2 separate regions of the Homo sapiens genome follow, and region 2 is linked to region 1. The links come from fine-mapping of genetic effects on gene expression. Tissue or cell type: fibroblasts. Region 1 holds a variant in brackets; the other region holds the start of a gene. All regions are shown on one strand. Distances are between the middles of the regions.

Region 1 (8,107 bases):
CCTCCCAAAGTGCTGGGATTACAGGCATGAGCCACTGCACCCGGTAAAGAAAATGTTTTGTTTATTTGTTTTTTTTGTTTTTTAGATGGAGTCATGCTCTATGGCCCAGGCTGGAGTGCACTGGCATGATCTCAGCTTACTGCAACCTCTGCCTCCTGGGTTCAAGCAATTCTCCTGCCTCAGCCTCCCAAGTAGCTGGGATTACAGGCGCCTGCCACCATGCCTGGCTAATTTTTGTATTTTTAGTAGAGACGGGGTTTCCCCATGTTGACCAGGCTAATCTCAAATTCTGATCTCAGGTGATCCACCGACCTTGGCCTCCCAAAGTGCTGGGGATACAGGCGTGAGCCACCACGCCCAGCGAGAAAATTTTTTAAAGTGTCCATTTGAACACTTTCATTAGCTGTGAACTGTGCTTCAAAGATGTCAGTTTTACTTTGTGAATAACCTGAAATATCCTATTTTGTAACATTTTGAACATAACAATCCAATTCCTTCAACAACCATCATAGAAAAATCAGTTAAAAGCAATATGTCTAATTAAAATAATGATTTTATTTAATTTGGTCAATAACAAAATGTCACTCTTTATAAATGCAATTTGTTCTGACAAACGTCAGAGATAGTCTTTGAGTAGTTTCCTACAGATGGTTACATATGACAAACATTTGTGAGTCAATAAGATGAATTTAGTAGTTCAAACCCTAGCTGCTAAAGGGGTAAATTAATTTTCTTAAAAGAAACAAGTCAACTGTATTGACTAGTGCACGTACAAGACATTTTTCAGTTTTATATTCAATCATGTCTATTAATAAATACTCATTGAATAAATGAAAGAATTGGCCAGGCTCGGAGGCTCATGCCTGTAATCTTAGTGTTTTGGGATACCAAGGTGAGAGGACCCTTTGGGGCCAGATGTCTGAGACCAGCCTGGGCGACAGGGCAAGACCCCTATATCTTAAAAAAAAAAAAAAATCTGAGACGGGGTCTCACTCTGTCACCCAGGCTGGAGTGCAGTGGTGTGATCTCAGCTCACTGCAACGTACACCTCCCAGGTTCAAGCAAATTCTCCTGTCTCAGCCTCCCAAGTAGCTGAGATTACAGGCACCTGCCACCATGCCTGGCTAATTTTTGTATTTTTAGTCGAGATGGGGTTTTGCCACGTTGGCCAGGCTGGTCTCAAACTCCTGACCTCAAGCGATCTCCCTGCCTTGGCCTCCCAAAGTGTTGGGATTACAGGCGTGAGCCATCATGCCCGGCCTCTACAAAATTTTTTTTAACAATTAACCAAGCATGGTGGTGCATGCCTCTAGTCCTAGCTAACTGGAAGGCTTGAGGCAGGAGGATCTCTTGAGCCCAGGAGTTTGAGGCTACAGTGAGCTATGACTGTACCACTGCACTCCAACCTAGGCAACAGAGCAAGACCATGTCTTTAAAAAAAATTTAAAAATAGTTACTTGCTTTTAAAAACAGTAGTGACAAACTCTTAAAATCCTCATCAGAACAAAATAGAGCATAAATTAAGACATTATCAAACTACCATACAATACAGTAGCAAAAATAAACATAGGTTTTACCCAAAATACCATATATCATCCGAGAAGTTCAAACAACTCTAAACATTTACTAATGAAGAATAGGAATTGTTGAAGTTACAACAGCAATTTTCAGGTCAAAAATATCAGTTGAATGACTCATGTGAGACTATGATGGTAGGTCTTCAGCCAGGTGTTTTTTGTTTGATTTGTTCCCATTTCTAACATTTCCAGATAACTTTGTTCAGGTGTAAAAGACTAAGATTCCTAGGATAGACCATATAAATTATGTAAGTTAATTCTAACTACTGCTCTACAAATGGCCAAGTAAAACCTGAAAACAAAGGAGGTAACAACTCCTTCCTTACATACCAGTGGACAGCCAGGACACTCCAGGACTGATGAGGCAGAGCAATAATAAGCATCACTGTTACCTGATTGTTCCTAAGGAGCCTTAGAACTTAAGACTATAGGTCACGTTTCCATCTGGCAACTAAACCTTCCTAGCCCTAATCAGCTTTTACCAAAAAACAAAACAAAACAAAACCCTGTGCCTTTTAAATGTGACACTGCCTTCTTTTTTTTTTTTTTTTTTTTTTTTTTTAAGACAGAATCTCACTCTGTCACCCAGACTGAAGTGCAGTGGTGTGATGTCAGCTCACTGCAACCTCCGCCTCCTGGGTTCAAGTGATTCTCCTGCCTCAGCCTCCCAAGTAGCTGGGACTACAGGCACACGCCACCATGTCCAGCTAATTTTTGTATTTTTATTTGAGACAGGGTTTTGCCATGTTGGCCAGGCTGGTCTTGAATTTCTGGCCTCAAGTGATCTGCCCACCTCAGCCTCCCAAAGTGCTGGGATTACAGGCGTGAGCAACTAAACTGCACCCGGCCCTGCCTTCTGAATTATTAAAATAAAAATAAAGTAACAAAATTATAGAGCACACACAGCATATGAACATTCTTTCTGAAAGTGGACTGAAGACCAAGAAGTATCAGTTATAGACAATTAAATATACAATCTATCTCTTAAATGTTTTTTCTATTTCCAAAAAACCTGCACTGAGGGGGAAGGCTTAGGACCACTGCTGCAGATAGTAAGTTAAACAAACATTCAATGCTTGAGTTTTAAAGTTCCTCACTATGTTTTTTATCAAGGACATCTTCTGTGGCTTACATAATGCTTTTGTACATCTGTCATTTAGTAAATAGTATATATCCTACCTCTATTATTAGAATTCTGCATAATTCATGTATGGCCTGAGATGAAATCTGATAAACTTTTTGAATTATGAGAATAAGAGAAAAACTAACTTTTCTCCTTATCTAGACCTGATTTTGGGATTAATGCAACTGATTAGAAGTCTCATACCTATAATGTCAACAGAATGCATCTCCTAGTGATCAACATACCTACTAAGGACCATGACCTCACATCTGTAATTCAAAAGACATCAAATAAACTTTACATCTACAGTGTGATGTGTTGATTCTTTGTATGGGTAATAAATTCCAAGTGCTATAATTGACTCTAACAAATGATTAACCATGTACTGGTCAAAAATTTCACTGAAGAAGTATTCCAATCGTGAAAATCTAGATACATCTAAATCATATCAGTTTATGTCTCTCTAAAATGTAATTTATTAAAAAAAAACAAGAAAAAAACATATGATTATGCTGTGGCTTTTTCTCAGGCTGTGTTGATCAATAAATAATAATTTGAAGAGACAATGCAAATATAGTATTTAAATTCAGAATTTTTTAAATAAGTATTTAAAAATATACATTAATCATAATTACTTTTATGTCATGCTGAATTTTCAGCTAATATAAATATTTGATTGTTTTAAGAGACAGGGTTTCAGTATGTCACCCAGGCTGGAGTGCAGTAGCTATTCACTGACTCAATCATCACGCACTACAGTCTCAAACTCCTGAACTGCGGCTGAGCCCAGTGGCTCATGCCTGTAATCCCAGCACTTTGGGAGGCCGACGCAGTTGGATCACTTGAGCCCAGGAGTTTGAGATCAGCCTGAACAACATGGCAAAACCATGTCTCTACAAAAAGCATAAAAAAGTTATCTGGGCATGGTGGCATGTGCCTATAGTCCTAGCTACTCAGGAGGCTGAGGTGGAAGTATCACCTGAGCCTGAGAGGTCAAGGTTGTGGTGAGCTGTGATTGCGCCACTGCACTCTAATCTGAGTGACAGAGTGACAGCCTGTCTCCAAAAACAAACAAACAAAAAACAAAACAAACCTCCTGGGCTCAAGTGTCCTCCCACCTCAGCCTCCCAAGGAACCACCAGGCTCAGCCTAAATATGTACTTCAAAATCAATTTCCACATACAAGCATTTTACACATTTATAAACAGATAAATCAGACCTTGTGTCTAAAAGAAAGAACTGTATTTATATACCATAAGATTACACTGCAAAAGACTAAAAATAACCTAAATATTCAAAAGTTTCATATCAAGTCTACAATATAATATACAATCTTAAAATTATCATTATGAAAATCATTTGTATGATTTTAAGAACACAAAATAGAATTATTATACATGATGTAGAATAATGCATATTTTTATATAGGTATATTCTATACCTGTATAAAAAGTATATACATGTGAGGCCAGGCATGGTGGCTCATGCCTGTAATCCCAGCACTTTGGGAGCCCAAGATGGGCAGATCACTTGAGGTCAGGAATTCGAGGCCAGCCTGGCCAACATGGCAAAACCCCATCTCTACTAAAAATACAAAAAAATTAGCTAGGCTTGGCGGCAGGTGCCTGTAATCTCAGCTACTCAGGAGGCTAAGGCAAGAGAATCACTTGAACCTGGGAGGTGGAGGTTGTAGCGAGCCAAGGTCATGCCACTGCACTCCAGCCTGGGCGATAGAGCGAGACTCCATCTCAAAAAACAAAAAAAAAGTATACACATGTGAACCAAGACTGAAAGGGAACAAGTTAAAATAGCAGAATATGTGACTAGACTTTTAGGTGACTTTATCCCCTTTTTCAATTATCATTAATAAATTGCTTAAATATTTATATGAGTTTCAAAGTAAACATTTACTACCAATTTACAGACTGCTAATTTTTCCAATGTTGGAATGGTATATATAGGGCCATGGGCATCAGTGGAGCCAGCGGATATTTTAAACCAGAATTTAGAGTTGGTTTTTAAGTGTATGCACCTTCTCAAGTCTTGAAGATTGAAGTTGGAATCAAACTCCCTTGAATGTAAGAAAGCTTGCATTTGGGGAAAACTATGCAGATCAAACATCTGCAGAATAAAGTTCTCTCTAATAGGAGAGGCCTTTCTAATGAATGAATTTAAAGATATACATCCAAGTGCAT[T/A]TTGTGCTCCAGAGTATCTTAAATACTTACCTTCATCTGCCCTATTAATTTCATGTTCAGGAAGCCTGGAGCTGCTGGGTCTGGAAGGTGAACCCACAGATGGCTGCAATGAAGGAAGTTCATCAACATCTCTCAAATTAGCAAGCATATCTTGTAGTTTTGACCTATTGGGCCCTAGCCAAAAAAAGGGGGGGTGGGAGGAGATAAAAAAGAGAAAAGAGAATTATCCAATTGCATCAAAATGGTATTATAAGCCTTATTTTCCATCTGTCAATATTTACCTTTAAAAATATTCTACTAGATTAATAAGAATTATTTTCAAGTTTTCAAATTACTGTAAAAGTTTATTTCTTGAAAAGAATTATACTTTTTAAATTAAGCAAATGGGATATCACTATTTACATAAAAAAGAATGCTCGTGTCCAGTTAGACCATGAAAAATAACATTCTTTAGCCACTGAATATTGCTCTAAATGCAGCCAGATACAGATTGTGAGCCTACTGTGCACTGAATTAAACAGTAACATCCCTGTTTGTTTAAATTAAGTTGCATTAATTGCCTTACATCCTGAAGCTATGGTACCCGAGGTGAAGTCTCATGCCCTACCGATTACTTACCTAAACTTTGATTCTTCATTCTCCCACATCCCTGTTTTGACTGTTTTATATAGGATAGAGGCTGAAACAGATCTTCAGTAGTTTTTCCTGTTACAAGTTTAATTAAGAATGGGAAAATCTTACCCAAAGTCTGTTATGGTTTGTTCCTATACCAGCAAAGAATACAACTATTTTTAAGCAATTTTTACTAATGCCTAGAAATGTATTTCAAGATGGTATGATTGGAGTACAGGATTTGACTGGAAATATCTCTACTAGACCACATTGAAAAGACTCAAACTTTTCCAATGAGTACTAGTTCAATTAAAAAAAAAAAATTTATGGTGGTTTATAACTCAATGCTTTATATATCAATTCAAAGCATGGCTTCAGTTCTATTTTTATCCTAAGTCTTTACTTGTTCCTAGATTGCTATTTTATCAAGATAACATGAACTGAAGACATTAAACAAAATGTGCTGAAATGTGTAGTCCCTCTCTCTTCAATGAAAGATGTTAAAATTTCTCCCTTACAGTGTCATTTTTCTTCACCATACTAAAAAAAAACCATGTGCTAGATGTCTGAACACATTTTAATCCCCCGATTTAAGAAATCCAATTGCTTCTATTAGTAGGAATATTGTTCCAGTCAAATGGTGCAGTTTCAGTTAAATTCCAACTACAGCAATGCCTTGATATTTGACAAGAACTGAATAACCAATGGAAAAGTAGATGGATTGTGCCTAAGTCCTGGTTACCTTTCCAACTAAAGGATCTTTTGTATTTCAAGACATTCATTTTTGTAGCATAATGACCTAAAGAAAAATATCAACATTAAGTTAATCTGGAAATTATTTCTCACATATGACATTCAAATTTTCCTCAAAATTTCAGTTTAACTGGTTTTTTGTCATGACTCTCAAAAGCCAAGACAAATCATCTCCCTATGCTTGTTAAGATTAAATTGTCTATCAGTAAGTATATTTGGCGAAAAGGTATGAAATGTGCTTATGTTTTAATATTAATCTTTCTCATTCTGATTTAATCTATCTTGAGATAGCATTACAACATCATCTCTCATTATGTAATGGTTTAACATCAATAACAGACACTGACTTTTTATCAAATCAAGCTAAACGCTTGTAATTTCTAAAATATTTTAAATAAAGGTTTAAATGCTTTTAAGTAATAAAGTTTAAAAGAATGTCCTAACAGGAATGACTGGTCTTTAATAAGCTTTAGCATCACTACAGAGAGAGAAAAAGAAAAAGCATACCTTTCCAGTCTTTCGCAACTTTAAAATACATTTCTCACTAAGTTAGATTTTAATCTCACTTTATACTACCTTAACATCTCAAATAATCAAATTCCTATTACCATAAAAGGGAGGCCCATATTGTCAACGAGGGTAGAAACACAAGGAGGTAATTTAGCCTTGTTCCCCTAAGAAGATGATTTAAGACTGTTTTCAGGAATGGTTTGTAAGGTTTTGTATTTCCATTTTACATTCTTAACTAGATCCATTGCTAAACAATTTGCATAATGAAATAATTAAACATATATGATTCACAGGGCTAGAAATTTCCTTTTGGATTTTGTTTTTGATGTGGCATACATTAAAAAGGAAAAAAGGTCATTGGTAATAATGTTATAAGTAAAATTGGCCAAAAATGTTTAAATAGAAAATAAATATTTTTAGAAGTTATATATTTGACTCTGTGCCCTGTATAGCATATAGTGGTATGAGCAAATGAACTGCATGTTATGAACACATAGAATATTCAGGGGTAGAAATTAACTTTCTGTCACCAATGTCTAAAATTATAAGCAATAATTTTGGTGGATTGCCAGAGGGTCACACTAAATGAGTTATAAATTGTCAATGAAAAAGAAAAACATTGTTATAATTAAGCACAGGTACTTTTAAAAATCAAATTATCACTGTGTTTGAATACATAGCCCAACACTCATGAGGCTCTGGATTTATTATTGGGATATAGTATACATGATTCCATAAGTACATGTGGGTTGTTTTCTTTTAAGTTCATAATTAAATAGCTAATCATTTAATTTCAACCCCTGAGAGCAGGTGAAAAGGAAAGAGGTCAGGAGCAGAAATGAAAAAGAGTAAGTAGATTTAGGAAAACATTGAAAAAAAAAACTGGGGGATGTAAAGAGGCAAGATTTATGATTTACAGATACAATGTTTTCCACTTACTCTTCACCCCCTTTTTCCCCTTTCTCTCCTTTTTGTATTGTTCCTTGAGTTTGGTAATTACTCCCTGGTCCACATTCCAGGCTTCAGGCATGAGACACTGGTCTTCCTTTTCTAAACAGAGTGAAACAAATGAAACAGCCTTTTTCAATAAAATATTGAACACTCTGAGTCAGTATGTCTGAATGACGTAACAACCACTTTCTTTATAGTATCACTAACTTAAAAAAAGTCAGTTTATTCATTTTATATATATAAGTCACACAAAAAAATATAATCACTAAGAAGAAATGATCAGTGCAATTTCCTAGAATCAGTTTCTCCTGAAAGACACACACACACACACACACACACACACACACACACACACACACGGAAGATTTTAGTGATTTTTAGTAAAT
Region 2 (8,107 bases), 83 kb after region 1:
GCTACTCAATCTTGCCACCTTTTTCATACAACTCTAACACTTACAGGTAAATATCAGGGCCTCTCCTACACCACACACCACACACATATCAAAATCTAGGGCCAACATTTTTTATTTTTTATTTACATGCCTGCTTTCTCATAAGTCAGTAATTTTCAAATACTGAGCCTTAGGTTCTCATGAACTCATAAAGTTCTTTACTCCTGCTATTCTCCCCATTCACTGCTGGCTCTTCTCTCCTTCACTATTCTTTTTTTTTTTCTTAAGATGGAGTCTCATTCTGTCGCCAGGCTGGAGTGCAGTGGCACGATCTCAGCTCACTGCAACCTCCGCCTCCCAGGTTCAAGCGATTCTCCTGCCTCAGCCTCCAGCACACACCACCATGCTCAGCTAATTTTTGTATTTTTAGCAGAGACAAGGTTTCACCATGTTGGCCAGGACGGTCTCGATATCTTGACCTCACGATCCGCCTGCCTTGGCCTCCCAAAGTGCTGGGGATTACAGGTGTGAGCCACCGCGCCCGGCCTCTCCTTCACTATTCTAAAGAAATTAGCCTTCTCCCCAAATGATAAACACTCTGATTCTTCTACAAGTTATATCGTACTAATAACTAGACTGCATGTTTCTTTGAGGTCATCTAGCACAATGCCTCACATACAGAAATTTTTCTCAAATATTATTAGTATTCCTTCTCCAATTCCTTTCACAAATGTAAAGCTCACTAATAATCTTAATCATTCTTTTTTTCCCCCCATGAACTACTGCCTAATCTCAACTGGATGTGAGGAGGGGAGCATTACCAAAAATAAAAAGAGAATTTATCAAATAAGATGAGCAAGAGTGAAATAAGTGACAAATAAATAGGTTTTTGCTATAACGTGGCCCTTTCCTTACTCCCAAGATCTGAAGGAGGGAGGAAGCAGTAAAGGCAGGCCAGGCAGATGAGAGCTTGGATTGCCTTTCACAAGTCTTCCCTGGCAACCTGAAAGAGCAGGACTGACAGGTTCTTGAAGAGGCAAATTTGACTTCATCTTAAAGGTATTTGTGTTGACTCTGGTGTTAATGGCTTAGGAAGAGATTTAAAAATTAAAAGGAGGACACCAACTGAGCCGTATTTCATCACAACGCATTCAACTATTTTACTTCCTATTGTGTTTCTAAGAAAATTCCAGTAGCAAAAGAAAAATAAAGAAGATTCAAATGTAACGATGGTAATAATTTTTTTTCCAATTACACTAATAAGGGGGGACAAAGACCAGAGATTACTGCAAACTCTTCCCCCCAAAATATATCATATTCATCCTGTTAGGAAAATGACACATTTTTAAAGTTTCTCTGTGGAAACTTTAATTGGAACACAAAACAGAAAATGCTGTCAAAAAAGTAGTGTCCTTGGCCGGGCACAGTGGCTCACGCCTGTAATACCAGCACTTTGGGAGGCTGAGGCAGGCAGATCACTGAGGTCAGTAGTTCAAGACCAACCTGGCCAACATTGTGAAACCCCGTCTCTACCAAAAATACAAAAATAAGCCAGGCATGGTGGTGCATGACTGTAATCCCAGCTACTTGGGAGGCTGAGGCAGAAGGATTGCTTAAACTTGGGAGGCTGAGGCAGAAGGATTGCTTAAACCTGGGAGGCGGAGGTTGCAGTGAGCTAAGACTGCACCACTGCACACCGGCCTGGGCAACAGAGCGAGACCCTCTCTCCAATAAAAGGAAAAAAAAAAAGGAGTCTCTTTAATATGATAAGCACCCATGGGAAAGCTACCTGAAGTTAATAAACATTTGCCACAAACAACCCAGGAAGGGGTGTTTGGAGATGTGTGCATAAAAACTGAAGATCAACTACAGTTACCAGTAAATTGAAAAGTTTAAACGAGGAGAGGGAGTGAACGGGGCGGGGCGGGGGGAAGGATGGGTTGGAATTCCCCAACTTCTACAGGTAGAAAGGTAAGCATTGTTTTCTGGTGTGTGTGTGTGTTTTGTTTTTGTTTTTTTTTTTTTAACCAAATTAGTGTGAGTTATCTATATTCCCAAAACTGGAAAAGAAATTAAATTTTAAGTAACTAATACAAAAATCATTCCCCACAACTGCACAACATTAAAGTTAAACTTTGCCTTTAACATTTCCTTGAATCCTGAAATCCACACCTTTTATAGAATGCGCTGCTAATAAAGATCAATCTGTAAGTATTCAAATTTGTTGGAGACTATATAAACAAGGTCAAAGAAGACTTGCAAATATCAGATAGACTAGATCGACTAAATACTACAGCAATATAACAATAGGAATGAAAAAGTTGCCAAATAATATAAACATGTAACTACAGACTTACAAGGAAATCATAGAAACTACTGGTCACTCCCTAACTTCATTCAGCTGCTCATTTGTCATCTCTCAGAGGCCTACCCTGACTACCCCATCTAAAATAGCTGCCCCTATCACACGCTATTCCTGAACTCTGACTTATTTCTTCCTCACAGCAGTTGCCACTATAAGCCATTATATTCTATAGGCGCATTTGCTGGACTGTTTGCCTCTCCACTAAAACATAAACTCCATGAGGGCAGAAGCTTGGTCGGTTTTCTTTCAACACAGGGCCTAGACACACAGCTGGCACTCAATACACAGGTGCTGAATAAAATACATGATAAAACTGAAACCCAGAGAGGTTAAAGGATTTCCTCAAGGTCACAGAGCTAGCAACAAACACAGCCCTTACTATAACCTTGTCTACTACAGCCTTGTGTGTTCGCTCTTTCCACAGCCACTTCCACTACACCAGAGCCTGTTCCAGCACATGATTCTATTTAACAGATTTCTCCTCTTCTTTTTTTTCTTAAGCGCCAAATACATGTTACCAAAAAAAGTGACACACTGGGTAGCATTTTAAACTCAAGTGTTTTGCCAACTAAAACTATACTCAAATTTCATAAGTATACAGGCTTAGCCCGTAAAACAGAAAGGCACAACTATTCATAGTTCTTTAAGTTCCTTTTGAAATTGGTGTGTATGCCCTGGAAGTTTTAAGAACAACCACTGAAAACCTATTCACCAATTCTGAATGGCTTGTAAAGTATCAGCCTCACTTTCATTCTTTTCAGAGCCCACAGTTATCTCCTCCCTGGATATACTTTATCTTGCAGATTATGCAAGGCAATGTAACTAACTTCAAAGTCCCTTTAGTTCCTTTTAAAGCACAAGAAAATCTCCCAAAACACTGAACATAAAATTAACCCTTGGGAAGTTTCAGATTCTGAGAACAGGAACCACCTCTTAACCATTCTCTCTGACTGCGATCATCTAGGTCCTTCATTCAAAATGCATTAATTGGAAATACCTAAAAGAAACGTGGGAGGGGGCCGGGGGGTCGGAAGAAAGTGGAGAACAGACATTTACATATATAAAAAAAGGGATCTGATATATGAATAACACTTTTGCCCAACGTCAACTTCTCGCCTCGACTCAAGGCCTGACACAACTTCTGTTGTCTTCTTGATCACCTTCCTTGAAGAGAGGGGCCAAAGCCGGCACGTTCTGCGGAGACTGTCTCTAGACCTAGGAAGGGGCACACCAGGGCAGCGGACGATTTGCTCCGCGTCTCTCAAAACTACTGCCAGCCCAATTAGTAAACCGAGAGGGCAGCCCTGAGATGCAGGATGGCCAGAGAGTTGAAATGAGTCTGGGAGTTAAGAGTGGGATGGGGCGGACGAACAGGCGTGGGGAGGGTAAACAACGCACCAGGAGCGGGAGTGAGAACAGGGTCGAGGTGGGGTCAGCGAAAGGCAAAAGGCGAAGAGAAGAAGGGGACGGGGCTCCGGGTGGGATGGGCGGCAGCAAAGGGGGAGGGGACGCGAGAAGGCTGGGGGAGGGGGAGAAGGGTCCGGGGCGGGGCGGAAGGGAGCAAAGAGGCGGGATGAAGACGGCCAGGCCGGGAGGGTCTTTACCTGCAGCTCCGCCCGCTCCACCTCCCACTGGGCTCTCTCCACCTCGAAGCGGGCCCACTCGTGCTGCAGGAAGTGCAGGATCCCCGGGAGACTGTACTGGGCTCGGGCCGCCCCCGCCGCAGCCGCCCCGTCGCCGGCCGCGGCAGCCTCCGCCAGAGGCCCGAGCCCCTTGGCACCGCCGGCGCCCGGGTGGTTGTTGCTGAAGAAGACGCCGGGACCCGCCTGCTCGTCCATGGCGGCCGCAGATACCCGGGGAGCTGCCCCGGCGCCCAGCAGCGGAGGCAACAGCGGCGGCAAGCAGCGCCTCCTCCTCCCTCCGCCGCTCCCGCCCACACCCCAGTCAGCAGGGAGCAGCCTCCTGGGCGCGGGGGCCGGCCGAGCCCGTGACGGGCCGGGAAATGGGTCAACTGCGGCGCGCTGGCGGCCCGGGGCTTGCCGGGAAATGTAGTCGCGGGGCGGGGCGCGGGCTAGCGCGGCCCGGGCGGCCTGTAGGGCTGTGCCTCAGCTTGGGCGTGGCCTCGGGCCCGCCCCGCCCCGGCTCGCCGCGTAGGGGGCCGGCTGGGCGGGGAGAGCGGGTTTCCTCTGGGGCCGGCTGGGCGCGGGCGGGCGGGTCTCCAGTCTTCCTCGCACGCGGAAGTTCGCGGGCGGCGCACCCTGTTGCATTCAAAAACACACACACACACACACACACACACACACGGAAGTTGTCACGCCAAGATACCTGCCCGAGCTGCACATCTTTTAAGGCTTCCTGGCCGTTCTGTGAAGGAACAGGCTCAAAGCGAGCTACCCGGTGCGGCCGCGGGACCGGGGTTCTCCCGCCAGCTGCCCTGCGTGCTCTCGCTTCGGCTTCGTGTTCGGAGTTTCTCTCACCCTAGACGCTCCTCCATTCTGCCAATCTGCGGGTCGCTGTCGCTCTTGCCTTTCTCTTTTGACTCGAGGGGCTCAAACCTGTTACCTGACCAGTTTTCATTTCTAAGGAACGCCGATCACCTTTCTAAGACAACGCCGCAGCTTTCTGCTGCTGCTTCCAAATTGTGGTTTGTTGACAGCCCATCTGAAAAACTGCTCCGTTGAAGTTTCTTTCCCTTTGCAGTCCTCCTGCAGTAAATCCTGTAAAAGTTTTAGCATCCAATAATAGATGTTCTGTTATTTCGGTCTCATTTTTCCTATCTTATTCCCGCTGATTTTTACTCTACTTAATTGAACAAATATTTTGATTATCGGTTTTCTCTTGCGCTGGGAATATTAAGATAAATGACATCGTTTCTGTCATCAAAGATTGGCGTATAATCAAATATCACAAAGGCTTAATTTAAAAGCTACACCACCTTGAAAAAGCAAGTTCCCTTTCTGCTCCCTAGCGCGGTCTTAGATATCCTGGCCCCTCTCCGTTTTCACTTGTCCTGTTCCCAGTTTCTTTCACGATTCACCTGCCAACTGGCAACAGCATCCGCCTACCAAAGGTACACCAAAGTCCTTTCAAGTTACTCTCTGTAAATATTTGCCTTCTCCGAAGTCTGACAATATGTCACTATAAATTCACACTACAACAGTGGCAAAAAGGAAGGCCCCTGAAAACAATTTAACAAATGCAAATGAAATTAAGCACTTATTTTGTCACCCTAACAAGTTATCTGAAATTCTTACGTTTTGTAGGACGTACTTGTGGGTTATCAGACTTGATGGCCATGAAAAAATGTAAAGATCTAGGCTGCTGAGTGACATGTCAGGGAAAGACATCCTGTCCCTGTCCTCTCTCCCCTCCCCCCCTTTCCCATGGCTACTTGCAGAAAGGACAGGAAACACATTGTGTCTGCTCTGGTTGCAAATAAAGATGGAGAACTCTCTTCTCTCGCTTAATTAATGTTTCTGCTTTATGAATTCATTCTTTATTATCATCAAAGATTGATCCAGGCCTGGCCAAATTCCCTGTGCCATAACTTATTTTGGCTGTCAGTGTCCTTTGAGATACAGCCCAGTCTTCTCATTTACAGCTCAAGGAACTAAATTCCAAAAAAATTGAGACTTGTCAACAATGAGGCCTTGAGTGAGACGACATATCCGACAATTCCTTTAAGTCAATTCATAGCAGACACAAAATGTAATTAAATGTATAGATAATCTGGACTACCACACATATACAAAAACTATTTTAATTCGTAGTTCAACTTTATTACTCACAATACTTTTTTTGCTTTACGAGGACTCATTTACATTTTGGCCAGGCGCCATGGCTCACGCCTGTAATCCCAGCACTTTGGGAGGCCGAGGCGGGTAGATCACTGGAGCCTGGGAGTTGTGGGCAGGAGGCAGGAGAATAGGGTCTGGAGGCAGGGAACGTAAAGTAGATTCAGGCTGACTACCTAGAACTGAATCAAATGGAAATACTTCAGCTATAACAGGAAATGTCCTCTCCACTTACATAGGGCGCACACCAACTAAATGACGTTGTAACTTTACTTCATCCTCTTCATTTACATAGGGCGCACACCAAGTAACCAGTGGAAACCTCTAGAGGGTATTCAAACCCCAGAAAATTCTGTAACGGGACTCTTGATCCCCTATGCTCGGGCCTGCCCCTGCACTGTGGAGCCTACTTTCATTTTCAACAAATCTCTGTTTTTGTTGCTTCATTCTTTCCTTGCTTTGTGCGCTTTCCCCAATTCTTTGTTCAAGATTTCAACAACCTGGACACTCTCCACCGGTAACAGTTGGAGAACAGCCTGGCCAACATGGCAAAACCCGTCTCTACTAAGAATACAAAAATTAGCCAGGCGTGGTGGCACATGCCTGTAGTCCCAGCTACTTGGGAGGCTGAGGTACGATAATCGCTTGAACCCGGGAGGTGGAGGTTGCAGTGAGCCAAGATCATGACACTGCACTCCAGCCTAGGCAATACAGTGAGACTGTGATTCAAAAAAAAAAAAAAGTTTTAAAAAGAAGGCCTTCCCTTAGAGTTCTGGTGCCCTAAGTTGCCTTAAAACTATAGGACTATGAATCCCATAATTATCACTTATTGGTCCTGGCACGGTGGCTCATGCCTGCAATCCTAGCACTTTGGAAGACCGAGGCGGGTGGATTACCTGAGCTCAGGAGTTCAAGACCAGTCTGGGCAACACTGAGAAACCCCATCTCTACTAAAATACAAAAAAAAATTAGCTGGGCGTGGCAGCTTGCGCCTGTAATCCCAGCTCAATTCTCTCATTTTTTAATATGGGAATAATAGTCACCTAATAAAGTTGCTGTGAAGTTAAATGGAAGAAAAAAAGTAAATCCCCTCTCATAGTGCCTACTATATGGTATATTACGGAATAGTGATAGCTATTATTGCAATACAGTTCACAAGAGTAACTGAAACAATATATGTAAAAGAAACAGTCCCTGGTAAATTCTAGGGGCTCAATCATTGTTCTCTCCTTTCTCATTCCCTATTCAAAACTTTAAATTAGTAGAGTTAAAATAATCTTTAAAAAACAAAAACAGGGCCGGGTGAGGTGGCTCACGCCTGTAATCCCAGCACTTCGGGAGGCCGAGGTGGGCAAATCACGAGGTCAGGAATTTGAGACCAGCCTGGCCAACATGGTGAAACCCCGTCTCTACTAAAAATTAAAAAAATTAGCTGGGTGCAGTGGCAGGTGCCTGTAATCCCAGCTACTCGAGAAGCTGAGGCAGGAGAATCACTTGAACCTGGGAGGAGGAGGTTGCAGTGAGCCAAGATCGTGCCACTGCCCTCCAGATTGAGCGGCAGAGGGAGACTCCGTCTCAAAAAAAAAAAAAAAAACAGGCCGGACGGCGGTGGCTCACACCTATAATCCCAGCACTTTGGGAGGCAGAGGTGGGTGGATCACCTGAGGTCAGAAGTTTGAGACCAGCCTGGCCAACATGGTAAAACCCCATCTCTACCAAAAATACAAAAAAAATTAGCCAGGCATGGCGGTGTGCACTTGTGGTCCCAGCTACTCCAGAGGCTGAAGCAGGTGAATCGCTTGAAACCGGGGGGCGGAGGTTGCAGTGAGCCAAGATCACGCCACTGCACTGTAGCCTGGGCAACAACAGCGAAACTCCGTCTCCAAAAACAAAAACAAAAACAAACCATGAAAACAAAAACAACCCCCCCCAAAAAAAAAAAACTAACGTCTATGCCCAATCATTAAGC

Direction of the effects. Positions count from the first base shown, and alleles are read on the strand shown. Sizes are in standard deviations (SD) of each study's normalised expression.
As copies of A replace T in region 1, the expression in fibroblasts of the gene that starts at base 4,255 in region 2 goes down (small effect, 0.13 SD a copy in GTEx).

What was found. PIP is the estimated chance that this variant, and not a neighbour inherited with it, causes the effect.
Region 2: STRN starts here. The variant in region 1 is fine-mapped to the expression of STRN in fibroblasts (GTEx, PIP 0.92).

Annotation. Positions count from the first base shown.
Region 1 is chr2:36,879,007-36,887,113 of GRCh38, forward strand. It overlaps STRN (striatin), which reads right to left. Exons shown (of 18, transcript NM_003162.4): 8 at 7,710-7,820; 9 at 4,926-5,069. Among named protein-coding and RNA genes, the nearest start is that of STRN, 83 kb to the right of the region's middle. The variant T/A (reference allele first, on the strand shown) is at 4,896.
Region 2 is chr2:36,962,282-36,970,388 of GRCh38, forward strand. STRN (striatin) reads right to left here and starts at 4,255. Exons shown (of 18, transcript NM_003162.4): 1 at 3,949-4,255. The coding sequence starts at 4,182. RefSeq lists silencers at 215-410, 3,936-4,745.